Linked DNA regions of Homo sapiens. The protein of the gene in region 2 interacts with the protein of the main gene of each other region in a biochemical or structural test. Each region holds a gene or a part of one and is shown on either strand. Other genes may lie near its edges. The genes, in order: TCF7L2, JUP, EPAS1 and DSG2.

Region 1 (7,026 bases), on a different chromosome or scaffold from region 2:
CTCCCAAAGTGCTGGGATTACAGGCATGAGCCACCACACCCAGCCCAGCATCCCCTTTTTATCCCAGTTGTTCATTGACTGCTTTTTTCCCAAAGGGGAGAGGGAGGGAAGGTGGGGTTACTTGTAGCTCTCCTCCAACAAGATCTAAATCAGGCAGGCAGCCCCAGCAGCCTGGTGGGGTGGTCTTGGGAGAACAGGTAAGGTTAGTGTGTGTCTTTCAGGCTACCCAGTGTGTTGGTAGGATTTCCCCTTCCTAGCTCAGTAATTGGAAGGATGGGTTTAAAGTGGTGATTGCACATCACTTTGTTAGAGGGGATTGGTAGTGTTGGGGTAGGTAGGCTGCCTGGTTAGGCGGCCTTCACTGCCCCTGAACGAAGCCACACATGAGCTGGGTTTTACTGGTCTCTGAGCCCCTTTGTGCTGGTGCAGGACTGAGCCTGGCGCTTGGATGCCTGGTGGCCTCCTCCAGCCGGCCCCAGGCTCCACCAGTGAATGGCAGCGTCAACGTCTCATTTAAATAATGGTAGTACAGGGAATAGCTTTTAAATGGTTATCGTAAAACATATGATTAACGTCTGTGGACTGTTTACTTTTCCTCTGCGAACATTCTTTCAAGTGTGCAAATGGCTCGATGTAGGGTCCAAGCCCAGCTAATCTGTTTGGTTTTTGTAATAGAGAGAAAGCAATGTCTGCATGAAAATGTCACCCAGGGAGACTTAATTTACAGATTAAAAGCTTCCTGAATGAATTTTTTAAAAAATGAAGTCGTTTTCGTCCACGAACATGCAGCCCGTTCCCTCCATTACTCTGTTTTAATTCTGTGGTATTGTGCCTTTTGCCTCCCACTTCAATGGCATACATCAATTCCTCTCTGTCAGAGTGGACTACAGGATGTGCTCCTGTGGAACTGGCAGATGTGCGGTGGCACGTACTTGCAGAATCCGCTCATGTGTGCCTTGTGAAGCTCTTAGCCCCTGCGACGCACGCGGTGCCCATTCAGCAGGTGGGCTTAATCCCCACAGACGACTCTGTCCTCTAGCGGATGAAGTTCCAGAATGGAGTACACAAGCCTCCAACACCTCCTTGTCTGTTCAGCTCTGACTCTGCCTTAGATAAGATGCCAGATGGCATTTGATCAGTTTCTCCAGCTCATCCAAATAGAGGCAGAGACATTTTAGAGGAGTCACCATTTTTGAAAAAAGGCAAGGGTAGTAACTTTTCAAATGCCACAGCTCAAAAAGTGTGTTAGAAATCAGAGGAGTAGCTCTTGTGCAGGTAAGGCATGAAACTCCGCAGGGTGAAGGGCCAGAGTTGTAAGAGCAACAGGGATTACCATTGCTTCATTCTCCACCAGGTGCTGAGCCTTTTTGATGTTGTTTCTTTTAAACTTGAAACAATCACACCAGTCACATGAGGCACAAATACCCAAGATGGCATATCTTGAGTCTACTCAGTATACCAGTCCATTTAGAAGGAGATAAACTAATTTTTCAAACTGAGGCTGAGGGAAAATGAGATGAAACCTACCAACAACTCAGGATTTATAATCATGAATGAACCTTGTGCTAGGATTCCAGAAGAGATGCGTCTCTTCCTCCTTTCCCTGTTCCCATCCCCTAATGGATTGCTCTTTCCTTCTCTCCCTCCTTTGTACCTAAAATGCTGCTTCTTCCCTCAGGAATCCCACGGCCTCCGCACCCTCCAGATATATCCCCGTATTACCCACTATCGCCTGGCACCGTAGGACAAATCCCCCATCCGCTAGGATGGTTAGTACCACAGTAAGGAGTTCCATTTTTTAATTTCCTTTTTGTTTCTTACATGGGCATGTTTATTATTTATTCTGTGTGTGTGTCTGTGTGTGTGTGTGTGTGTGTGTGTGTGTGTGTGTGTATGTGTGTGTGTTAGAAGCCAGGGTTGGGGAGGGGGCTGCGGGAGGGCACAGAAAAGGTGTTGCTGAGGTGTCCTGTGGGAATACAGGCAAATCCACAGCCATTCAGGTGGCTTATGTTACTGGCACTTAGCATTCCGCGACCATGGTCCCCAGAGGCTCTGTGGACAGAGGTGCCCTGCAGTTCCTTTGGGAATTGCAGAAGACTACTGGAACTTCCACCCAATGAAGCTGGTCATGACCCTTCTGCTGTTGGCTGCCCAAACTGCAGTCATGTCATTGGGTTGAGGCTGTCGAGTCCTCCATTTTAGGTGTTACATATTTTGGGGCACAGAAGCAGGAACAAGAACGGCCTTGTTTTGAAATCCAGGGTTGGGATTAGGGCATGTTCTTGTATGATTCCAGGACCCCCCACCTCATCCTGAACATTACTCCCAAGGTTGACAACAACAGTGGAAAGTTTTGTCTGTTGAGAAGCTCCATGGGACTGAATCAGCATCTCTCTGAGAGTCTTTGCACGTTGAATGTTTTACCTAACTGTGAACGGTGGGAATGGGGCATTTGGAACCGTCACTGCAGCATGTGGGGCCTTCGTAAGCATCAATCCTAGCTCCTGGCAGTGCCCAGATTATTTGACTAACTTTTGCAACTTAAAAAAACTGTGTTTTAAATTCAGAGTAGAAAGGCCTTTGATGCATTAGCATACTGTGGCAGGTTGTGTGTATGTATATTTTTGCATGAGCATGTGTGTAATATGTGTTTCGTGATTGTTTCTGTGGATGTATTTCTCCTTACCAGTGATCTGTACTCTGAACAACACAGGACAATACATTGAATGCTAAAAGGAATAAATCCTGGTAAAACTCAGGTTTGAGTCTTAGGGAAGATGGCCTTTCAAAGCCTTAAGGAAGATAAAATTTTGGAGTGGCTTACCCCACAATTCTACCCGTATTTCTCTAGTTAGATAGATTCTATGCTGTTTTTTTTTTTTTTAATAAAAAACAGATTGCATTATGTAGTAGCTGTACCAAATACCAACCCTGGGTATAGTTTCTGTTTCTCTGTCTCTTCTTATTTTTATTGGGACGGTAGACATGAACATGAGCTTGTGACCCATTTCTTCTAAATAGATGGGGCCAACCCTCGAATAGTTCTCAGTGATCATTTGCCCCATTCGGCTGATGGGGAGATATTTGAAGGCTAGATAAAAAGGAATAGCCAACTCAGACAACCCTCTGTCAGAAAAAGTTGTGTGTCTTTCATGAGGATGCTATTTTGCATGTTGCTGTATTTTTTAATTATTGTAATGAGGTGTGATTGTCTATTGGTTACCCACAATTCTTCTTGGGGACTCTCCCCCCGGTAACTCTTGTCAACACTTGTTAATTTGACAAAAGGCTACAAATTAAGCTCTGTTAATTTAATGTTTTCTCACCGAGATCTAAATACCGAAAGAGGCCCAAAGCGCAACTGAAGTCCTTTGATTCACTGTACTTTATTTTGGTATAAATTTACATTCATTATTGTTTTCCTTTGGATGTGTAGCCCTCAATTAGTGTGATGGCTCCATTAAAGCAAGCGAGACTTCGCCTTTAATTATTACAACAAAACACCTAGTTTCAGCTTGGGGAGAGGGTCTCTATTGACATAAGCAGAGGTTATAAAATTTAATTAGCCATTCCTATCAGATTTATGGCATTCAAATTGTTCTGTGTTTCTTCCCTTTGATCCTTCCTGTACAATCCCCAAGATTTTTGTTCTGATCAAATGAGAATAAAGCTTACTGTGCAGAGAGAACTTTTCCCTTTTCTTCTTTTTCTTGTCCCCACCCCCACCCTTGTTTCAAGTCTCTTACTTTGTACCCCTTCTTTGTAGGCAAGGTCAACCAGTGTACCCAATCACGACAGGAGGATTCAGACACCCCTACCCCACAGCTCTGACCGTCAATGCTTCCATGTCCAGGTGAGTTCCAAGAACCGGGGCCTTCATCCAAGGCCATGTGTGACTTCTCAAGAAGTTCTCTAGATGGCCACCAAGCCACCCAGGGACCACAGCTACATGTAGTTCTATTAGTGTAAAGCCAATGTGGCATTAGGCTGTACTCCCAGAAAATCCTGAAAAATTGCCCTGAAATTCCAAGGTAAATGATGTCTTTCTGGGTAAAATTTTTGAGTCACTCAGTTGAACAATGTATTTTAATGAATTAAGAAGGTAAGGGAGAAACAGGACAGAAGCTTTTAAAAATGCCATTTCTCTGTTGTCCTGTCCTCAGCAAGAAAGGTAGCGGTGAAGGTAGTTTTATTATTATACCAAGAAGAGTTCGAAAAAAGATTACTGGTGTTCTCAAAGCTCAGACTCTGATTGCAAGTCAACAAGAAAGCATCCGCCTCCTCCCCTCGAAGGTAGCACTGTCCAATAGAAATATAGTGTGAGCCACAGAGGGAATTTTAAATTTCGTAGTAGCCGTGTTTTTAAAAAAGTTTTTGTTTTTTTTTTTTTAAAAAAAAGATAAAGTTATTTTTAATGACATGTTTTTATTCAATGCAATATAGCCAAAATATTATCATTTTAACATGCTATTCCTGGACAACAACTATTAATAAGATGTTATGTTCTTTTTTGTGCTGAGCTTTGGTACAAAATCTGATGTGTATCTTATACGCACAGCACTTCTCAGTTTAGACTGGCCACATTTCAAATATTCAATAGCCACACGTGGCTGGTGCATATCATAGTGGTCTGTGCAGCTCTAAGTCTTTGAAAGTTAAAAAAAAACATGTGTGTGTGTGCTGTACATTCATATATATTTATATTTCAGCGTAGAAACATATTTACAAGATACATTCCTATCCCCATGTTCTTCTTTTCCTCCCTCTGATTAATTCTGGCTAATTTTTCAGTGACTGCTAGTTTATTTACAAACTGGTTGGCAGCAGTATGTTTTAGTCGCTAATTGTTTCTAATGATAGTTTTATTTTCTGTTCATCTGATTTTCAGTCAAGTTAATTAAATCGGTGGAGGTTTAGACTTTGCTGATGGTCTGAAATCACCAACCCATTCTGATGATGGCACATAATGAAATTAGCATGCGTTACATGGCAGGGGTGCTGTCCCCAGCTTCTTTCCCCAGTCCCTGTGGCCAACATGGGAAGCCAAGACCAGAGAAGGGCCTGGAAAGACAGGTCAAGATGCTGCTTTTCCTACTTACAAAACAGTAACTTTAGCAGTGATAGAGAGTTACATTCATTAAGAAAAACAAACCGTGGCATATCTAGCATCGGTAACTATGCCGTGGATATCATAGTTGAAGAGATCCATTTTCTACCTGCGATATATCATCAAAATTTCAAAATCCATGCCAGTATTAGTTAGGTAGGAAAACGCTCGTGTGTTCTCTGGCCTAGAGAGAAGAGGAGGCGTAACACTTATTAAATAGTGTCATCACAGCCTCGCAAAGCATGGGAATGAGTAGGGGGTCTCCCAGGTGGAGAGCACCCAGGGACCACGGCTACATGTCATTCTATTAGTGTAGCAGCTTATACTCCACAGCTCATCTTCCCACCTTCCCAGCATTTGTATATTACACCTGGTTATTTTTCATGTTTGTTTATTTGGTGCGTTCTGGAGGTTAACAGTGGTAAAGTAATTGTAGGATAGGGATTGGGGTTAAGCTGATCGATTGAATTATCATTAGGAGGTTAGTCGATGAATTATAGGTGGGCATGGGGGTGGAGGAAAGGCAGGGAACGTCAGGAAGAAAGGTTAGGGCCTCAAGGTGCGGGGAGAGGCGGCCGACTCCCCAGGTAGGCCAAATGAAAGATAGCTAGTTAAAAAGCATATACAGCAAATTAAATACATTATTGTGATAATGGGGCGACAGAAGTATAGGTCTATTATACTTATGGCAGTTATAGCAAATGTAGGCAGCTTGCCCTGTTCCAGAACACCCTTTGATATTCATTCTATTCAGCAGTGGGGCCAGGACTTCTCAGAATTAAGTGATGGGTCATTATACTTTAAACACCATGGAGAAGCCTAGATTGGCAATTAAACAGCTCTTGCTGACACTCACTTGTGCCACCCTGTGACCCCCTTTAGATTGAGATGTTGGAGCTCCGGGCCCTCAGCCTGCTAAATTGGTGCAAGGCTCTTCTCCTGACGAGAGCCGGCTCTGAAATCTGCCGGCTTCAAAGGGAGCGAGATCATGTATAAACCATAATGTGGGTGCACCGTGGCTCACAAAAAATAAGGCAGGAAGAGATGAAATGTTACAAGTGCAAGGGGGAAAATGAGAGAATAATGACAAACCTAATGCAACTCAAAGCAGGATTGTTGCACAGGAAAATGCATCCTACTGCTTGTGCATAAAATCAAGGCCGGCAGATGACATCCGGTTAACAGAAACGTGTCAACAGTGAAGTAAAGTGAGAGTGAGTAAGAGAGAAGCCCCTGAGACAGCCAGAAACAAAAATTAGTTGTTCTTAACAAGTTAAGGTTCATCATTATATTCTGGCTTGGAGCCATGAAAGCAGACGGGGGTATATAATGAGCTGCTTAGAATTTTTAGGGTGTTTATTGCATTTCATGAAATAGTAGTCTGCAGAAAGGAATTTCTTAAGCGAAGGTATGTGTATACAGCCCACATCCATGTTCACACATGGTCTCTTTCTTTGCTGAACATTTTTCAGATATGGGAATATACGCGTAGGTATGGGAACTTAGAAATGTGCCTTCTTCATGGCTGCATTAGAAGTTTGTCTGCACCCCAAAATGTACTCAGATTGTGGTGCCTTCCCGTGGTATTTGGTGTATGTACACACACGTACACACACACACTCACACATGCAGTGTTTTTCTCTCTCCCCCTCCCTCTCCCTCTCACGTCTGTACACATATTCTCATTCTGCAGGAAGGGAACATATGTATTTGAGGAATGTCAGGCCTTCAAAATTCACAGTAAAAGCTGCCACCCACCACTTCACCCAAGGGCTTCCAAGAACACATGTTCTTAACTTCTGTTTCCTCTGAGGCCTTCGAGCAGTGGGAAGGAACAGGGTGTCACTTGGAGCCCAAGTGTCTCCCAAGGGGTTTTGCTTTTTTTGTTTTTCACATTATTTTGAGAGGAAGGGGATGAA
Region 2 (7,026 bases):
CCTCACCTTTTTGTTTTGAGACACGGTCTCGCTCTGTTGCCTAGGCTGGAGTGGCATGATCCTGGCTCACTGCAGCCTCAATCACCTGGGCTCAAGTGATGCTTCAGCTTCCAGAGTAGCTGGGACTGCAGGTGCATGCCACCATGCCCGGCTAATTTCTTTTTATTTTTTGTAGAGACAGGGTCTTACTATGTTGCCCAGGCTGGTTTCGAACTCCTGGGCTCAAACGACCCTCCCACCTCCGCCTTCCAAAATGCTGGGATTATAGGCACGAGCCACTGCGCCAGCTGGCTTCCGCCTCCTCTGCCATCTCTTTGTTCTTCTAGCATGAGAATGCATGCCTTTCCTGTGGACAGAGGGCTTCCAGAGTCACAGTGACAAAAGAAGTCACTTGATCATCTCCATTTTACAGATGAGAAAATGAGGCTTAAGGAAATTGAGCCCCTCTCCTCACTCAGAATCCTGTGCTCACCCTGTCGCTGTCTGAGCCTGGGGACCTGTGTCTGCACAGGGTGCTGGCCTCTAGCCTAAGGAACCTCTGGGGGACCCAGCCCTGCCCTGCTCCGCCCTGCTCCTCTGTTCCCAAATGCAATGCTTCTGAGTCTGCTTCCAGCACGGCCTCTGGGGTAACCCACTCCTGTCCTTATTTCCAGGTGTCTTGGCACTTGGTGCCCTGCAACCCAGCCTAGATGTGCCCATTGCTGACTGTCCTTGGCAGGTGCCGGCTGGGGAAGGAGCCTGGTGTAGCTCTGGTGGGGCTATTTTTAATGTCAGGGCTGGGCCACACTCTGCCAGGTCAGTCTTGGATTTAGGGTGCCCGGTGCCAGCCCTCTGGGTTGGCTGCGCAGAGGAGGAGGCAGGAAAGAAGGGTAGGGGTGCACCCAGTCTAGCCTTATTACTTGCTCACACTTACCTGGTGTGGGTCCCATGGGGAAGGGTCCTCTGCACCCCCTCTCCAGGGCCCGTCTTCCTTCTTCCTGTCCTTGGGCTGTCCCTACAGTCTCTGATCTGGCTTCTTCCTCCCGTGCTGCTAACAATAGAGCACGCTCTAAACAAAGGCCCCCCATTCAACTCAGAAACCCGCCCTGTCTCTGTCCCTGCCCGTCTCTGGCTGGGATGAGTGGGCAGGGCCTGCGTCTGTCTCTCTCGCTTCCACCCTGGCTCTGTCCAGGGGCATTGCAGGAGGTCTGACTCCAGGTCCAGGGTGGAGAGGGACAAGACTGAACTGGGTGTGGCCCCCTCCACCCTGGGAACTGTAAAACCAGCACTTTTGTTTCTTGTGAGAGAAGTTCCTTTGTTCTCCTGGGCAGTAGGTAAGGAGAAGGGTGGGGCTGGTTGACAGTCCTGCCTGAGGTCTGACTTCCAGCCTTCCTGTTGCAGGAATAGCTCCCGTGACCCCTTCCTCAGGAGGAGTTCTGGAGTGTGTCCTCTCTCTGAACTGGTTCCCAACTCTGACGTTGCCCACCCCCAGCCTTCTTCTGTCTGTTGTGGGAATCCTGTTTTTTTATTTCTAGAATCTTAGACATCAACATTCCTTTGAGATCCAGGGACACAAGGACACCCAGCAAGTTTGTGGCAGAGCTGGGACTAGAACCTGGGACTCTTTTTTTTTTTTTTTGAGACAGGGTCTTGCTCTGTTGTCAGCCAGGCTGAAGTGCAGTGGCGCAGTCTCGGCTCACTGCAACATGCACCTCCCTGGTTTAAGCAATTCTCCCGCCCCAGCCTCCCGAGTAGCTGGGATTACAGGTGCACACCACCATGCCTGGCTAATTTTTGTACTTTTTTAGTAGAGACAGGATTTCACCATGTTGACCAGGATGGTCTTGAACTCCTGACCTCGTGATCTGCCCGCCTTGGCCTCCCAAAGTGCTGGGATTACAGGTGTGAGCCACCGCACCCGAACCTGGGACACTTGATTTGCAGCCGAGTGCTCTGCTTCCATCTGCAAGCACCTTGGTCCCCTCCTCCCCTTGGCAAGAGGGCTCAGCTCCACCCAGGCTTGTCTAGTGGACTGGATGCTGTTCCTACCACAAGTGCTGCCATTTTCTCAGTGTGCAGGCACAGCTTCTTCACCTAGAAATTGGGAATAAAGCCAGGCACAGTGGCCCAAGCCTATAATCCCAGCACTTTGGGAGGCTGAGGTGGGCGGATCACCTGAGGTCAGGAGTTCAAGACCAGCCTGGCCAACATGGGGAAACCCGGTCTTTACTAAAAATACAAAAATTAGCCAGGCGTGGTGGTGCACACCTGTAGTCCCAGCTACTTCAGAGGTTGAGGCAGGAGAATCACTGGAACCCAGGAGGTGGAGGTTGCAGTGAGCCAAGATCATGCCACTGCACTCCAACTTGGGCGACAGAGAGAGATTCTGTCTCAAAAAAAAGAAAGAAAGAAAGAAATTGGAAATTATAAAACATCTGCCAGGGTTGCTTTGAGGGAAGAATGAGATTCACATAATAATAAAGGCCACTGGGCGTCCACCCCCCCACCCCCCCATGGCATCCTGTGGCTTCTGTCTCTCCCTGGGTAGCTGTCTAGCCCTCAGCAGTCTCCTGGCGGTTGACCTGGGCTGGTGGGGGTGGTGAGGGGCCTGCTGAGGAAGTTCCTCAGCTTGACTGTGGTGGTCCCTTTAGATGTGAGGCCGGCAAGGGGTGACCCTTGTTTGGAGTGAGGCCCGCTTCCCTCTCCCTTAGCTGAGAAGCCCCAGGGTTAGGCACTGTCTATGCAGGAGGGCCCTCTGGCTGGGATGCAGTGTGTTTGTTGACCAGAGCTGCAGATGTCCAGCAGTGTCCAGATGTCGTTCAGCCTTGAGCCCAGCAGAGCGGCATTCAGTGGGTTATTGCTACCGTGTTTACTTGTACACTTGCACCTTCCTTCTCTCCTGGGGGCAGCTTCTCTTCCAAACTCTCCTCTGCTCTCTCTTGGGACTTGCCCTTGGGGCAGGGAAATGGTTGGGGAAGGCGGCACAGCACGAGGAGCTCAGGATTTTAGTAGGGTTTTCCCATGTCTGCCTTCTCCGAGCACCCCGCCCCCCGCCCCCCACCATTGCCCCTGTTTCCTGCCAGTGGCCATTCCCCTCTGTTGCTGGGGAAGGGGTGTGGGGAAGGGGTGCGTGTGGAAAGGGGGCTGGTTGGGGGGGCTCCTTCTGAAATAGCTACACTTTCGAATGCCTGGGAAGCAGCTGTGCACATCTGGCGGCCCGAGCCTGTCGTCTGGGGTCTGCCGTCTGAGGTGGCGGGACTGCTTCTGTTTAATCAGCCTGAAACTCTGAGTCACTAGGGATTGCGGGAGGAGAGGAAGGAGGCAGCTGGGAGCTGGCCTGGCCCCTGCCTCTGCCTGTTCCGGGTGTGCTCACGGCTGCCTGCCATAAAAGGCTGGGAGACCTGCAGGACCATTCGTCATCCTCCTGGAGGGCCAGGGCGGCACTGGGGCAGTCACAGGGAAGACTTATCCTTGGTGATCTTTGTTCCTGGGGTGGGGCCAGGTTGCCCCAGCCACCCCACCCTCACCTGGTCCCCATCACAGTGAGACAACCCGGGTGCTGCCTGGCTTCATGGGTGGACCAGCCTGAGTTCTGCTTACTCACTGAGGCTGCGCCGGGATGTGCAAAGACTACAGACCTTGGTGCCCTCACACCTGGTCCCAGTCCCAGCTCTGCCATTTCTAACCTCAGTTTCTGCATCTGTACGCGGGGGACCAGTGCATGGGCTTTGAAACCCGCCCATGAGCATGACGGTGTCTGTGAAAGGTCTGGCTCGTAGTAGGCCCTCATGGGATCACGGCGTCCATTCTCCCCGCAGCCTCTGACCTCTGCAGGTCAGTTCCCAGGACAGTGGAGCCAAACACAGACCAAGCGGGAAGTTCACCTCCCTGGTACAAAGTTCGGCCCTGCTACTCATTAACCTTCAGGTGCGCCTAAACCTTTGCAGAGAGAGAGAGGGGTTCCTGACGGCAGTGACCACCCACAGGCCTGCCCCACCCCAGATCCCTAGCCTGGGCTCGAGGAGACCAGGAGGTGAGGAAGCACTTCTGGAGGAGAGGCAGTGCTGATGATAATGGCCGTGGCCTCTGAGCACCTGCTATGCACCAGGTCCTCGCAACCACCTCTGAGGGAGGTGGCGTGACCCCGCTTTACAGATGAGGACACTGAGGTTCTGTGGGGAGAGGAACTGCCCCAGTAGTGAGTAGCTGAGATTTGAATTGCTCTGTGGGACTCAAAGAGGCGTCTAGGGACTGGGAGGGCTGGGAGAGAGGGGGCCTTAGGGTCTGGACCTCAGGGCCATGTGTGATCCTGCCCAACCTGTAGGAAAGCCAGATCCTGGAGTCTCTGAGGGAGCCTGGGGCGCTCCAGAGAAACCTGTCAGACCGCTTCCCTGCCCCGCCCAGTTTCCTGCCCAATGGCTTGGGTGCCTCCTCCCTGCAGCCTTTCCCAGGGAGCCCCAGTAGTTGAGGGTGGGCCCAGGGGACCTCAGAAGCTGCTAGAAGCCCTGAGTGCCTTCTCTTGCCCCTGGGAGAGTTGGGTCAGGGCAGCAAGGTGCGTGAGCAGGGGCTTCTGGCGGCAGCTGGCCCTTGACTGTCCTGCCCCCTGGGGCTCATCCCCCTGGGAGGTCAGAGATGCAAGCCCAGGACATACACACAGCCGCACCCCTGGGGCTCACTGCTCCCAGGGTATCTCGTCGTGGGCAGCCCCTCCCTGGGCCTGGTGCCCTTCTGGGCAGTCCCCCCATCCCCAGCCTGCATCCTCATTGAAATCCCTGGGCCATGGTGATGATGTGGGAAGACAGGCGGGGCTTGGTGACGGGCTGAAGCTGGGGGCTGGGCCAGGTGACTTCCTGCTTCCTGACTTCCTCCTTTGTGCCCCCAGTAGCCACGATGGAGGTGATGAACCTGATGGAGCAGCCTATCAAGGTGACTGAGTGGCAGCAGACATACACCTACGACTCGGGTATCCACTCGGGCGCCAACACCTGCGTGCCCTCCGTCAGCAGCAAGGGCATCATGGAGGAGGATGAGGCCTGCGGGCGCCAGTACACGCTCAAGAAAACCACCACTTACACCCAGGGGGTGCCCCCCAGCCAAGGTCAGGACCCCTGGGGACTATTGCATGGGGCAGAAAACCTGCCTGGGTCCTGGAGAGAGGTCAGAGTGAAAGGAGGCAGATTGTAGGGGGTCTCTGGTCTGAGGGAGGAGGCACAGCTCATGCTAACTAGGGGCCCACCCAGTCTGAAGGAGGAGGTGCAGCTACTTCAGGGTGCTGCATCTGGGAGGGTCACAGAATCCTCTTCTGTGAACCATCAGTAGGGAGGGAAGGCATAGTCCCTGCCCTTAGGGTGCCTCCAGTCTGAAGGAAAAGCCATAGTCCTTGCCTTCTGTGAACATAAGAATCTGATGAAGACATTGGGTACGGTGGCTCATGCCTGTAATCCCAGCACTTTGGGAGGCTGAGGTGGGCAGATCACCTGAGGTCAGGAGTTTGAGACCAGCCTGGCCAACATGATGAAACCCCGTCTCTACTAAAAATACAAAAATTAGCCGGGTGTGGTGGCGCATGCACCTGTAGTCCCAGCTACTTGGGAGGCTGAGGCAGGAGAATTGCTTGAACCCAGGAGGCAGAGGTTGGAGTGAGCTGAGATTGCGCCACTGCACTCCAGCCTGGGCGACAGAGTGAGACTCCGTCTCAAAAAATAGTAAAAAAAAGAGTCTGATGAGGATGTATCACTATGGCTCTCAGGGAGCCCATGGATGGCAGGGAGGACGCAGCCCTTTGGCTGCAGGAGCCTCACGTTTGTGGGAGAGCCAGGGCCGTAGCCCCCAGGAACCCCCAGGGATTCCCCTTTGGGTAGAGGGGTGTAGGTGTCAAGCCTGAGGGCCCCTCGTTGGGGTTGGAGGGAGACCAGGCCTCTGCGGCTGACCTGCAGATAGGCCAAGGCTGTGGGATGAGTGACTGACTCAGCTCTGGGGCTTAGTCCGGGATGGGGATGCCCCGCCAGCCCAAGCCTCCCCTGCCCCTCTGGGAGAGAGGAATAGCCAGGCCCTAGAACTGTTGGCCACAGGTGCCTCCAGGGCCCTGAACATGCCAGGGGGTGGGCTGTGGGTGCTGGGAGTAGTGTGAGTAGACTGTGGCTGGTGGGGCTCTATGGAGCTCAGCCCTCGCATGCCAGTCTCCTCCCTGACAGCTGGTAGGGGTAGCAGGGGGCCTTTTGGCTGGCAGGGCCAGGCACTGTGTTGGTAGCAAAAAGTACAGCATCCAGGTGGGAAAGCCATGCAGCTGTCTCCTCCTTCTCGACTAATTAGAGGGTGGAACCTCTGCGTCCCTCTCCCTGGGGGCATCAGGACAGTTGCCAGGGTGTGGCTGCTTGGGCACCTACCTGTGGGACTCCCAGACCCACCCAGGGGATGGAAGCTAGAGAGGAACCTGACGTCTCAGCTGAGGACCCAGCTCCTGCTCTCTGAACCCACAGCCCTGACTTTCCCTCTGATCTGCTGTGAGATGTGATGTTGGTGGTTCTCTGGGCCTCTGTTTGCCTGCCTGTATAGTGGGAGGATTGCTACCGTTGGGGATGATGAGGGTGTAATTAGACTCCTGAGATTTCAGGGTTGAAAACAGACCTGATGGGTAAGGGAGGAGAATAGAGTAGGGGTTTGGGCCCCTGAGTCAGGCTGCCTTATAACCCCTCTGTGCCCAGTTTTCCCATCTGTAAAGTGGAGCCAGTGATAGTACTTACCTTGCAGGGTCGTTGTCAGGTTATGTGAGAAAATATAAGCAGGGCATTGAATTCACTGCCAGGCACATAATAAGTGTGCAAAAAAAAAAAAAAATTCCCTTGATGGACAGAACATGTGGGGCCTATTTTACAGAGATTACTGAGGTGATGGTGACTTCCCCAAGGTTCCTGGTGAGAGGTAGAATGGCCAGTCATGTGCTGGGGGTTTGGGCAGGGCAAGAGGTAGCCCAGAGGACCCAGGTGGGGCTGTCTGTGGCCTGCCCTGCTCCCCAGTGTCTGCCCAGCCCACTGCCTGCACTCAGTC
Region 3 (7,026 bases), on a different chromosome or scaffold from region 2:
AAGCTTAAAAAAAATCTCTTTTCTATTATGTAGGGATGCCAAGTTATTTTCTAGGACAGTAGGGTTTTCCCAGTGCTTATGGAGTTATGTTACGGATGTGCTTCATTCACCAGGGTGAAGCACGTATCTGACTTTCATCATCCCCAGCACTATATATGCTCCCAGGCTATATGGCTACGTCGGCTTGAGCCACTTCACCTCAAAGCCAGTGACACAGGGGCTATGCAGTGGGATTGTCCATGTTATCTCACAAGACTACTGAGGTACACAAAGCTGTGTCTTCTGCCCAGAATGTTCACCTGAATACAAAGACTGCATCTGATAAATAACCTTACCTATAACATGGATTCCTGCAGTGCCTGTCACTAAAAGTGCAATCTTCTTCTTGAACCACCATCATTATCACCACCACCACCACCACCACCACCACCACCACCACCACCACTACCACCACCACCACCACCACCACTAACAATTACAATAAATGGTGACTGTGTCGAAGTTCCAGGACGGAAGGCTTCATGCATGACATTTTCTCCCTATGAGGTTAGAGCATTTCTTTCTACTTATATAACTACCCACTAGCTCCAAAGGCTGTGAATCCTGGCCCTACTGTGGTCAGAACTGAAGGACAGGAATGACTCAAGGATACTTTTACAAAAGTTCTGAAATTGTGCCACAAGTGGTGGCCAACTCTAAGAAGGGGCGACCAACCAACACCAGGCCGGTCTGGAATCAGAGGAGAGAAACCCCATCCTGGAGAGGAGGGTCCCTCCCATGAAGAAACCAGATGCCCTTGGGATGTCCAGCTGATAAGAGAAAAGTGGGTAGGCCTAGGGGAGGCTGAGCAGGAGCTTTTTTTCCTGGGGTTCCATGGTTTCCTGCTAGCTGAGGAAGACAAGGCAGATTCTTGCTGATCTGGGGGTCAGATTCTTCCTCTTCCTGCCCCCCAGCCACTAACTGCCTTCAGAAGTGGTTTCAGCTCCTTGAGTTTAGTGGAAGATTTTGCTTTGGAGGAGGCCAAGGACAGGAAGTAAGATATAAGCAATAACAAGAAGCCTCACATGTGTTGTGGTGTCTGGACTTCTCAAAGTGCTTGCACAGCCATTATCTCATTTTACAGTGACCCCATGAAACAGGTTAGAAAGTGTTATCTCTATTTTGGAGAAGGGGAAACTGAGATCTGAGGGTTTCCTGAGGAGAAACCCTAGAAGATGAGAGAAGAGTGGCAAAGAGTTGGGGGTGGCAAAGAGCTGCCACAGGAACTGTCACCCTGGGACACATGGCGGCTCTAGATGCTGCAGAAAGCTGAGGTCAGGCAGGGAGATCTCTGCCAGGAAGGGCGCATGCGGGGGGTGCTGCTCAGCAAGCCCCAGTGGCGCTTACTCAAGCCAGGCCTACCCTGGGCCCAGTCTTCTGCATTTCCTTCCCTCCCTGGGGCCGGCCATTGCTCCGGGCATCTGTTCTCCCCATCTTCCTCCTCCTACCTCCCATCATCAGGCTCCACAGTCCCAGAGGCAGGGCTGGTGGGGGAGTTAGGAGCTGTAGGGTATCTAAATACTCCCTCCTATGACAACCCCAGTCTCTTCCCCACCTGCTTCAATCTTCTAAATGAGCTAAGAACCCGAGATGGCATGACATGCCTAAGCAGTCTTAGGCACTCTTTCAACAACTCTAATAAAGGTGATAATAAGAGCTAACACTGAACATTTATTACTAAATTTGAACCTAAGCCATCTAGTCCTGAAGCCCATGCTCTTAATCACTACTGTGTCTCCTAAGAGACACTGGGCCTGGCACTGGGGGGTTAGCATCTGGCTCAGCTACCTTCATCTTCTTCAAAATGGCTGGACACTGGCCGGAATGGAGTTGCATGCAGGAAGGAACAAGGCGGAGGGAAAGGCTCAGTCAGTAATGGAAGAGGGTCAGTCTCCAGGGCAGAAGCTGATGCTCCTTACTGGCCTCTGAAGCAGGAGTACAGATGGAAGTCTCTAGACTCTTTCTCCTGGGGCAGAAGACTGCCTTGAGAATTTCCTCAGGAGCCTGATACACGTATGGAGAAATATGTTCACACCACAATGATGAGAAGAGTTGCACACCAGGAAAGCTCTGCAGATGGACCCTGAGGCTCTGTCAATGGGAGACCACCAAATACAGTACCGGGAACCTCTGAGGGGCACTGATGCAATGAAACAGTGGCACAGGTCCACGAACATGCACCCGGCAATACCACGTCTATGTTCAGTTCCACACCTTTAATACAGGCACAACTCCCCACACACACAGGTAAGACCCATCTCTGCCCACAGCATACACACCCATGGCCCCCTACCTGTCATCACAGTAGGTGAACTTCATGTCCATGCTGTGGCGGCTCAGGAAGGTCTTGCTATCCAGGGGGATGTCCATGTGGGATGGGTGCTGGATTGGTTCACACATGATGATGAGGCAGGACAGCAGGGGCTCCTTGTAGCCACACAGACTATTGTGAGGAGGGCAGTTGTTGTAGACTTTCACCTGGCCCGTGCAGTGCAAGACCTGAGACAGGCGTGGAAGGGTCAGACATGGAGCCGAGAGTGCTGGGGGTGGGGGTAGGGCCTTAGGCATCCCCTGCACCGCCGTTACCCTACACCTGGGACTCCAACCCAGGCCTGATGTTGCCCTACCTTCCAGGTGGCTGACTTGAGGTTGACAGTACGGCCTCTGTTGGTGACCGTGCACTTCATCCTCATGAAGAAGTCCCGCTCTGTGGACATGTCTTTGCTTTTTTTCCCAAAACCAGAGCCTGGATGTGGAAGGATGGGAAGAACCAGCTGAAGTCAGTTTTATATGGATATTCATGAGAGGGGCCCAGCTGCAGTTTTTCTTGGCAGCCTATTGTTTATATTTTCCAAATATCTGCTCTCTTAGCACCTGTGGTCTGCCATCAACACTGAGCTCCATCATGGCCTGTGAACTAATGGTTCCCACTCTCAAGCTTATCTCCTCAACTGGAGCATAAACTCCCACAAGGGAGGAGCTGCTCCATCATTTGATTTCCCATTGCATCTGGAACATGGTCAGTGGTGCCTTCAGAGCAGCGACACAACGACTGCCTATCAGCCACTAACTCAGCCACCCTTTCCTGGGGCAGGCCCAGGTCTTCTCGCAGAAATTCCAAGGGACAGTCTGAGTGAGGCCACAGTTACTCCAAGGGTGTAAGCCTTCCTCACAGGTTAGAAATGTCTCTCCGACACTCCCGTCTTTCCTTTATAACCTGTCTCTCAGGAGGAATTTAACCCCTCCTGTACCCCATTTGCAAACTGCAATAGCTGTGTTCAGGATACCATGCCATTAGCTTTGTCCCTGAAGTGACATATGTATCAAGGCTCTAGAGAGAACTCTGGTACGAATCTCCTTACAGTGGACTTGGTGAGCAAGTCCACTTTATGGATTAACTCAACCTGGATCATATCCTCTCTCTCAGCAAAAATTAAATCACCAAGACCAGCAATATAGCTTACTTCCTTATAGTTGCCAAACAGCCTCCCGATTCAGAACCATTTTCCACTTTTTGTAAAACAAAGTAATGAAGAGTGCCAGCTGAATCCCACTTGTCTGTGTCTAAATCCTGCCTACACCACCATCTCTGGTACCTACTTTCAAAGATATAATCCTGCCCCCTACCCAGCATCATAGAACAATCTAGAGCCTTGTTTCGAATAGTCACACTCCTTCCTCCAGGAACAGTCACCAGCCCCTGCACTTAAACTTCCAGAGGATCTTGACTGACATATTCCTGAAGAGTTATGTGTCAAAGGAACTGTGGCACCCTTGAACAAAACTTCAACATCCTTAGGGGACCCCACTCAGTAACAGACTGAATAGTGAATTTTTTTAAAAAAGAGAGAACATTCCTTCATCACGATTATAAAACCATTTCTCCCATACCAAATTATGATTCTTGCCATTTTAATTTTCAGAGGTGGGGTTAGCATACAATGAGATATACCTGTATCTTGGGATCTGGCCCCACCACCAGGACCAGACCAGTTGTTGGGTATAAGGGGGCTGGAGGGATTCATTTGTGGCTGTTGCTGGGGTATTATTGAGGCCTCTTAACTTGCTAACCTCTGGATTCTCCCCATGCTGACATTTGATCTTTTTTTTTTTTTTTTTTTTTTTTGAGACAGAATCTTGCTCTGTCGCCAGGCTGGAGTGCAGTGGCGTGATCTTGGCTCACTGCAACCTCTGCCTCCTGGGTTCAAGTGATTCTCCTGCCTCAGCCTCCCAAGTAGCTGGGACTACAGGCACGCGCCACCACGCCCAGCTAATTTTTGTATTTTTGGTAGAGATGGGGTTTCACCATGTTGGCCAGGATGGTCTCGATCTCTTGATCTCGTGATCCACCCACCTTGGCCTCCGAAAGTCCTGGGATTACAGGCGTGAGCCACCGTGCCTGGCCTTGTTCATTCTTTCTAAACACTGCTCCACACAGATCACTCCACCCCTGCACAGAAACCTTCAATAGCTCCCCATTGTCTATGGAATAAAGTTCAAGGCCCTCCACCTGGCCTTCAAAGCCTTCCACAATCTGCCTCATGGCTTTCTTTTCCTCTAGGAACTCACACTAACCCTTTAGGTCTAGATCACGAGTCCACCCATAGGCTGGCACCTTCAGTGAAGATTTGCTGTTGCATTGAGTTTGACTGATCCCAAGTCCTCAATATGCAGATCAAGAGATCTAAAGTTCTACTCAGATAATTAGAGGTCACTTGGCTGTGAATCATGGCACTTGAGAACTGAAAGGTTGTCGCCTTTGCCTAGTCCAATACCATCAATTTGAAAAGAAAGACTCTGAGGAACAGAGAAGTAGGGTACTTGCTTCTGGTCACAGACTCAAACTCAGACTATGGTCAGTGGCTGAACTGACACTAAGAACCCAAAGGCCAAAGGGTTTCTGGAGTACAGAAGAAATCAGTCTTTGGTTTTCTCAGGCTTTCTCAGGCTTCAAGCACCTACCCATGCAGAACATGAATCCTCTTTTTAGAGAGCTTTAGAAAGTCTGGTAGCCCTTTCCCCACAGAACCAGACAAGACACTGAGCAGCCTACAGGGTGCTCTCTGCCAGTGTACCCTAGGACCCAGGTGGTCTAAGGCCTGCAGAAGAGAGAGCAGAGGAGCTGGGTGAGGGAGCTGTGGCAGTGGTAGAAGAGGAGGTGGTTGTGATTCTGTACTTTGCAGGCCCAAATGTGGACTGCAGACTCAGTCTGTAATAGGGTGGAGGTGAGCCAATGAAGTGTCTGTTTTTGCAGCGTGTGTGGTAATAAGAGCCAAACCTTGTAGGCTTAGCCTCACTGCCTCTGTTATTCAGGCTGGACAAGCACAAGCCCCATGGCAGTGACAGGTGAGGTTGTTAAAGAGGACATCTAGACATGCACAGAATCTCCCCAGACCAGTGACAGAATCTCAGGTTTGGAAGGGACCTTGACAGTCATTAAGCCCCAATTCTGACCAAAGCTTCAGTCCTCTTAACAATGTCCCTATTCATGCCTTTGTTGAATGGCCACAGTTACAAGACAGGAAGCTCCACTGCCATTGCAACCATTGCAACGTGCTTTCTGCCTGTGTGGGTCCTCTCATCTACTGGCACCTGCTGGGTATCCCCATGGGTAAGGTCCTGAATGCTACATCTTTTTAAACCTCTTCTCCATCAAAACCTACTTGACCTGCGTCTCATCAGGGTACCATTTCCTGTGGTAGCTCTTCTCCAAAAGTAGCTCCAACAAGCCATGCCTTTTGACACTCATGGCTTCGTGTAGTTTCCTCCCACAATGAGCCAGGGCTGGCCTGTAACATGCTCTAACCAACAAGATGGGGCAGAAGTGATGCTCTGCCAATCTGGGGACAAAGCCTTCAGAAGGCCTGGCAGCTTCCACTTTAGTGCTTCTGGGAGCCCTAAACTGCCACGTAAGATGTCTGGCTACCCTAGAGACACCATATGGAGAGGGAGAGTCTCTGAGTCTCCATAGAGTGAGAGAACAGTCCTGTTGTCCCAGCATGCCAACTGAGTCCAGGGTTCCAGCCACCTGCCACAAGGTCCCAGACGTGTGTGAGCTATCCTGATCACCCCAGCCTAGTCTGGCCCCCAGATGACTGCAGCCCAGCTGACATCACATGGAGTACAAGACCCACCCACTGAACCCACAGAACCCTGGGAGATAATCATCAAAGCCCTATGTTATAGGTGGTTTGTTAGACAGCAATAGATAACTACAGTAGTTACTATGAGCACTTTGGCACAGACTAGTTCCTCATTGGTTTGGGTGGTGTCATTTGGCAGAGATGCTTGACTCTTGGGTGATGAAACCTCCTAGAGACAGTGTCCTAACCCAAAGGTGTCCCCTAGTAGTGGGACACCAGGCACCATGCAGGGCCAGCAGGAGATATTTCTGAGTACTGGATCCTCTCAATGCCCCAATCTCATCTCACAGGCTACATACTTAAATTTTTTAAGGACATCCATTTTTCCTGCATCACAAGGGCCATGAGCTATCTCCCTTATACCCGTAGACAAAGGGGAGGCAGATTCCCACCCAGTGGGGGCAAGAAGGAAGTAAACACAATTAAGGATACCATTTTTGAGACTCAGGTTCTCACGAATCTCCTCATGGTCGCAGGGATGAGTGAAGTCAAAGATACTATGTCCTGTTAGCTCCACCTGTTTCAAAAACAAGGTTAGGCATCATTATTCCTAACAGTGAAGTAAAAGACTCCAAGAGTAAGCTGAGCCACCTTCCAGATTTGGAGGCAGGGAGGAGACTGAATTGGGTTTTCTCATAATCCCAGTCCAGTGTCAGGTCCACAGACAGAAAGATGTAATCGGGGACTACTGATGATGACAGAGACTTGGTCTGTTAATGAGTCAGTAGAGAGCTGTCTACCAGGATGGACATGAGCAAAGCCAAACCCAATGCTTGGGGGTGGGAGCGTGGCCTGAGGCGTGTGGCCTGAGGTCAGCGAGGGTCACCGTGGGCATTTGCAGGGA
Region 4 (7,026 bases), on a different chromosome or scaffold from region 2:
AGTGCAGTGGCGCGATCTCGGCCGACTGCAAACTCTGCCTCCCGGGTTCACGCCATTCTCCTGCCTCAGCCTCTCGAGTAGCTGGGACTACAGGCACCCACCACCACGGGCAGCTAATATTTTTTTGTATTTTTAGTAGAGACAGGGTTTTACCGTGTTAGCCAGGATGGTCTCGATCATCAGACCTCATGATCCGCCTGCCTCGGCCTCCCTAAGTGCTGGGATTACAGGTGTGAGCCACTGTACCCGGCCTAAATATACTAAATTTTAAGGCTGTTCCCTGATGATGTGGACACTGGGACCTCTCTGATCCAGGCACTGATCTTTCTCTTCAAAAATTCCCACCCAAGGAACATGCAGAGAGAAGTGATCTATCTCAGCATTGCTTTCCCTTGCTTTTCATACCATGCCACCTTTGAAAATACATAAATTTGGGGAGCACCACTTTGGTTAGAGACATCTCTGGCCATTGCTAGCTGGGCAAGTTAATAGTAGACAGAATGAAGAAGAGATCATAGATCTGATCATAAAATAGAGAATTAGCCATGATTGTTCATCTGCCCCAGAGAAGCCCACACTAGAAGCTGAACATCTGCTCTCCTTGAGTTTCTCTTTGGAATGGAGAGCCAAGAACATGAACTGACAATGGAAAGGAAAGAAAGAGGCTGAAAGATTCACTTGTGGAATGGACCCTACAGGAAGCTTTCAAATGAATGCAAAGGATGTGAAAGAGACTTTGAAATTTTAGGGAATGCCTTGTTTCCCATGATGTACCAACTAGGGCTTTGTGGATCCATGTGACCATGCAGATGGGAAAAGGCAAACAACTGAGAAAAGCTACACCAAAGACAGAGTCCAGTGAATTAATGCATAAATGGAAGGTGGAGTAGTGGGAGCAATACATATAGACAATAATTTCAATTTGGAATTATAAGTAAGAGAGGGATATAGAGCAATAGATTGTTAACAGAAACAAGAGAGGGATCTGGTTTTTTTTTTAAGATAAGGAAAACCTAAATATATTTGGTTTGCCAATCAGAAGGAAATAAATGTATTGATTAGCCAATGGAGAAGGAAGATAAAAGGTTAGTGGAAGGATTAAGGTTCTTGAAGATAAATGTGGGAGAACAAATAGAGTTGCAAATAAAGCACACAAACGATGGTTTGCCTTGGAAAGGAGTCAGGACACCTCTTCTGTGGGGAAAGAAGGGAAGGAGAGGATGACTGAAGATAGTCTCAGTCAAATAATACATGGGGTCATCTCATAAGAGTGAATAGGTACAGAGGTGTGACTAGAGTCATCTCCTAAAGTTTGGAATGCCTATTTTAGAAATGCAATAAGGGTAAGGCAATGACAAAGTGACGATATAATTTATAGTGTGAGCACACTTTTGAGGATGAAAGGGTTGTTAACAGATGGAATGCCTCACAGCAGGTGTCAACCTAGACTCTTCTGAGCAAATGCAGACATATGGTCACACTAGAAAGGAACCGCCACCCCATGGAAAGAGCAGCTATTTGAGAGCATGAATGTGTAAGGGATCTATTCAGCCACTGTGGCCTCCTCTAGCGATATTGCCAGTACATGGTCAGAACTAAAGAGAATAATAGGTTTCTAGAGTTGAGAGGAAAAGTGAGGCAGGAATAGCAGTCATGAAAATGAAGCCTCCCTGGTGGTCACTGACAACATCTTCAGAGTGGCAGGCAGCAGTCTGCTAGCTGCTCCGGTAGAACTGTGTGCAGCGGTGGAAATGTTTTCTGTCTGCCCTGTCCAAATGGGTAGCCCTTAGCACATGTGGCTGTGGAGCAACTGGATTATTCATTTCAAATAATTGCGGTTAAAATCCAAATAGCCACAAGTAGCTACCATATTAGAAAGTGCTGGTTCAGATTGAGCCAAGAGAAGAAGGAAGCCAGCAGGGAGATTAATGAACTATAAGGAAATCCTGCCATTTGCAGCAAAACAACATGGCTGGAAGTGGAGGTCATTATGTTAACTGAATAAGCCAGGCACAGAAATACAAATACAACATCTTCTCACTTATATGTGGGAGCTAAAAGTTTTGATCTCATGGGCATCGAGAATAGAATGATAGAATCCAGAAACTGGGAAAGGTAGTGGGGAGGTGGGGGAAGAAAAGAATTGATTAATGGGTACAAATATATGGTTTGATAGAAGAAATAAGACCACTAGTTAGAAATAAGTACACTAGTTCGATAGATCAGCAGGGTGACTATAGTTTACAATAACCTATTATACATATCAAAGCAGCTAGAAGAGAATTATTTAAATGTTTCTAGCATAATGAAAAGACAAGTATTTAAGGTAATTGACATCCCAAGTATACTAATTATCTTTACAAATTATATGAATGTATTAAATTATCACATGTATTCCAAAACTATGCACATCTTTAATGCATCAATTTTTAAAATTATTATTTTACAGTGCAAAATATTCAGAAAGCAAGATGGGAGTTTTTTGGGCAAATTTAAGAGTAAGCATAACTGTATTTAGAACAGTACTAGGTCATGATGAAGTCCCAAGTGTGACAGTGCCTATGAAGAACCAAAGAAAAGAGTTGGTGGGACTGAGGATGCTGAGGAACCGAGAAGTCAGAACATGGGCTGTCCGTGTGTGTGTGGTGTGTGTTTTTTTGTGTGTGTATAATGCACACACATCCATAGGGATGGTGGGAGTTAGCTGGGTGTGGGGTACATTACATACTGGTGGCCTCGAGGAAAAGTAAGCAGGTCCTGGAGAACACAAGATAAAAACCATAGGATGCGGAGTAAAGGATGAGAGAATGTCTAAGATTTCACAAGGCAGATTATTTTGTTTGTTTTTTAAGATACTGTTTTCTGGAGGAGTCAGTATGGATCCAGGAGAATATAGATTTCTCCTCGGGCACTTCCCATTAGGGAAGGCAATGGGAAAAATTAGTTTCCTCTTGACAAAGAATAGTAGTAGTGGTTAAACTTTTTTTATGTCTATAATATTCAATGCAGTAGGTTATTCATGAACAATGTTTTCACACTGAATTGAGCAGTAAATTGGCTAAATATCAAATAATTTTATTTTACAGATCTGCTTTAACGTTGGAAGTGGACTTCACTTACAGGTGAGGAAACAAAGGGATTATTTCTGCCTTCTGACTCAGGAGGGTTAATTCCATGGCAAACAGGTTGACTGGGCTTTACTAGATTGAAGACACATGTTGTATTAGACCCAGCCATTCCCATTCAAACAAGTGCAGAGGAGCTTATCCAGGGGTATTCAGTGCAGCAGTTTTTGACAATGTAAATATCCACCAATAGGTGAATGTTAAAACCATTTATGGTACATGAAAGAATGTCCATGACGAGGTGCTGAATGAAAATCGGGGCAAAATAAGATATATAGTGTAAGTCCATTTTTATAGCAAAAAGACCTTTATGCATCTGTGTATATATGTGCAACTGTATAGTTATGAAAAATCATAAAAGATATTAATCAAGCTGTTAATGAATACTTTGTGAGGTATAAATGAAAAAGTAATTTCAATTTTTTGTCATAGAAAATTTTGTTCAAGTAAAAAAAAAAATCAATGACCTAGTGATAACCAGAGTACATATTTTGAAGTAAAATACCTATTACATAGAGCAACAAAATGAGTAAAATGATAAACCAAACCTAGTATAAGGATTATTTCTGATCTTAAGATCCCAGGTCAGCTGTATTGAAATTTCCCTTGGATAAAATATATATTCACCTGTAAAACCCAACTGGAAATTTATAGAATGGTTTTCTGCCTAAGGTTCTGAAAATGAAATGGGAAATTTAATTCTTTACCCAATCCTGAAAACAATAAATTCATTAACTGGCAGTTTCCCTGGTTTTAGTCAAGTTTATATCAATAGATTACTAAGATTTAGCCTTAAAAAACATTTAGTAATTTATTTTTAAACCACAAACCACCACAGAAAAATGAAACTTCATTTTCAGTTAATAAGAAAAAACGTTTTTGACATGATCTGTTATTTTTTACTTTGCCAATTTGTAAGGCTACTAAATGATTCTTTAAACTTTTCAAACTCTCACTCTGGGAAATCATTTCTTACAGTTAAAAACAAAATTCTACTGTCTGGGCACAGTGGCTCACACTTGTAATCCCAGCACTTTGGGAGACTGAGGCGGGCGGATTGCTTGAGGCTTGAGTCTAGGAGTTCAAGGCCAGCTTAGGCAACATGGTGAAACCCCATAGCTACTAAAAATACAAAAATTAGCCAGATGTGGTGGTGCATGCCTGTAATCCCAGCTTCTTAGGAGGCTGAGGCAGGAAGATGGCTTGATCCGGGGAAGTCAAGGCTACAGTGAGCCAAGATCATGCCACTGCACTCCAGCCTGGGTGACAAAGCAAGACCCTGTCTCAAAAGAAAAAATAAACCAGAAAAAACCCTACACTTTTACTAGCTTGGAGACAATCTCTTGAGGCCCTATGCAGTTTGCTAGAATATATATATTCCCTTTTAGACAATGAAGCCTCATAGGAAATACGAAGCATACCTTAAAATTTGCACTATTTAAAAGTTTATTATGTTATAGGACAGCATACTAATGTTCTATATTTATGACACATAATAAATTTTGGCAATATTCTATTGTTATAGGTCTTAAGCACAAGAAATGAAAATAAGCTGCTTCCTAAACATCCTCATTTAGTGCGGCAAAAGCGCGCCTGGATCACCGCCCCCGTGGCTCTTCGGGAGGGAGAGGATCTGTCCAAGAAGAATCCAATTGCCAAGGTACCTCCTAAAGAGGAACATGAAATACATGCATATGACTAAAATGTGGTGTGAGAGGACTTTTATGTCTACTTTAAGATTTAAGGAAAATGTATGATGTGCTTACAGAATTTTTAAATATTCAAGATATATCTGAAAATTAGCAGAGCTTACTTTTTAGCATAAAGTATCAACTTTAAGATTCTCTTTCCCATTCCGGAAGATGCAGCATCATTGGCAAAAATATAGATAACTTTGAGTTTTGATTTAACTAAGAGTAAAGGGATTTGGCACTGGTAACACAAAATGTTCAGTGCTCAAAAGAGGATGTCATAAAATGTCATTTTCAAGATGAACTGGTGTCTATTACTAGGTAGGGGGACCATCTTCATCTGCCTGAGACAGTCGTGGTTTATGCCTGCTCTCCTGGCTTAATAATTAATATCTGTGTTTTCACTCTCAAGGGGTCCAATTTTTTTGATAAATTATGTGATAGTGTTGCTACTCTATATTTCAAAGTTGGCATGCACAAACATAAACCCTTCATTTTTTTCCCCCCAAAGCTTTTCTTCATAAGTTCTACCCATTTTGGTAATTGATGCTATAATTCTCTCCAGTTTTTCAAGCCAAAAATGTACCACACACTATCAGTTCTATTCCAAAAATATATTCCAAATCTGCTGCTTCTCTTCAACTCCACTGCCATTCCCCTAGTCCAAGTCATGTCATCTCTGGCCTGTATTACCAAAGAACTTCAGAAGGAAATTGTCCATAAAAATATTTACCTGTAAATTATAGAGAATCACTTCTTAGGCTTTTGGCTAAGATCAAATCTAGTAAATTACAGAGAGTTCAACCTGAAACATTCCTGTTATTTTTATGTTAGATACATTCTGATCTTGCAGAAGAAAGAGGACTCAAAATTACTTACAAATACACTGGAAAAGGGATTACAGAGCCACCTTTTGGTATATTTGTCTTTAACAAAGATACTGGAGAACTGAATGTTACCAGCATTCTTGATCGAGAAGAAACACCATTTTTTCTGGTAAGAAGAATAATTTTAGATTTATTAGTTTGTAGTTTTTCTGTCATAATAAGTGTCATTTGTTTTATTTTTTCATAGTATGGTAATTTAGTTTTCTTAGCTTAAATCTAATCTTATTTATGTCATGATTTCAGCTAACAGGTTACGCTTTGGATGCAAGAGGAAACAATGTAGAGAAACCCTTAGAGCTACGCATTAAGGTTCTTGATATCAATGACAACGAACCAGTGTTCACACAGGATGTCTTTGTTGGGTCTGTTGAAGAGTTGAGTGCAGCACGTAAGAGTCTTTTTTTTTTTTTTTAATAAATAAATACCTAAGATTACTTTATCCCCACTGTAAATAAACACTAAATTTCATATCTTAATGAAAGTTGAGTATTACCTACAGAACAAATGATAAGAAAGCAGTTCAGAACTGCTTTCCTTATAGGTTTAAAGGACTTTACATGCCATTGCTTTTACCCTCAGAACAGATAGGGTAGATTAATGTGATGGATAAGGTCTCTGTAGCAACTACTCAACTCTGCTATCTGCAGGAAAGCACCATAGACAATATGTAAACAAATGAGCCTAGCTGTGGTCCAATAAAACTTCATTTACAAAAACAGGTGGCTGGTTAGCTTTGGCCCTACAGCTTTGGCTATAGTTTGCTGACCTGTAAGTTGTATTATTTTTACTGTAATATTTATTCACAACATTGTTCAACACAGTGCTCTTCATGAGGACCCGAATGAGAGATTTCTTTTTGACCATGATGTAAGGAATAGTTACGCTTCTCCTGATTTGTTTGTATCTTAATAGATATCAGGATCATGTACCTGCTCATGTTACTTTCTTTGTATTGGCTACTAATACTATTATAAACAAATCTGTGCCCTTATACAGCAATTTTTCAGGACTCTACCCTCAGCCTTGCCTTCATCTTGTTTTTACTATTGTTATATCCCATTCACGCTTATGTCCTCATCCAGTTAAATGTTATATTGTGGTCAACTGTATGTGATTTTGATAAGCACCTGAAATCTTTTTTGGAACAAGCTAAAATTATAAATAAAATAACAGGTAAATATGCTTAAAGTTGAATTTCATCTTAGACATCTTTATTTCTAATGCCAGATACTCTTGTGATGAAAATCAATGCAACAGATGCAGATGAGCCCAATACCCTGAATTCGAAAATTTCCTATAGAATCGTATCTCTGGAGCCTGCTT

What was found.
Region 1: the proteins of JUP (region 2) and TCF7L2 form a complex in vitro, tested with the Homo sapiens proteins (one study listed by BioGRID).
Region 3: the proteins of JUP (region 2) and EPAS1 form a complex in vitro, tested with the Homo sapiens proteins (one study listed by BioGRID).
Region 4: the proteins of JUP (region 2) and DSG2 form a complex in vitro, tested with the Homo sapiens proteins (one study listed by BioGRID).

The regions. Positions count from the first base shown.
Region 1 is NC_000010.11:113,142,245-113,149,270, forward strand, and holds part of TCF7L2 (transcription factor 7-like 2), read left to right. Parts: intron 1-1,678; coding exon 1,679-1,781; intron 1,782-3,766; coding exon 3,767-3,853; intron 3,854-7,026. UniProt on the Homo sapiens protein: Participates in the Wnt signaling pathway and modulates MYC expression by binding to its promoter in a sequence-specific manner. Acts as a repressor in the absence of CTNNB1, and as activator in its presence.
Region 2 is NC_000017.11:41,769,698-41,776,723, reverse strand, and holds part of JUP (junction plakoglobin), read left to right. Parts: intron 1-3,797; exon of another isoform or gene 3,798-4,134; coding exon of another isoform or gene 4,135-4,177; intron 4,178-4,467; exon of another isoform or gene 4,468-4,531; intron 4,532-4,861; coding exon of another isoform or gene 4,862-4,869; coding exon 4,870-5,077; intron 5,078-7,026. UniProt on the Homo sapiens protein: Common junctional plaque protein. The membrane-associated plaques are architectural elements in an important strategic position to influence the arrangement and function of both the cytoskeleton and the cells within the tissue.
Region 3 is NC_000002.12:46,356,397-46,363,422, reverse strand, and holds part of EPAS1 (endothelial PAS domain-containing protein 1), read right to left. Parts: intron 6,700-7,026; coding exon 6,615-6,699; intron 2,786-6,614; coding exon 2,667-2,785; intron 2,539-2,666; coding exon 2,333-2,538; intron 1-2,332.
Region 4 is NC_000018.10:31,515,153-31,522,178, forward strand, and holds part of DSG2 (desmoglein-2 preproprotein), read left to right. Parts: intron 1-3,086; coding exon 3,087-3,122; intron 3,123-4,650; coding exon 4,651-4,785; intron 4,786-5,650; coding exon 5,651-5,812; intron 5,813-5,946; coding exon 5,947-6,091; intron 6,092-6,930; coding exon 6,931-7,026.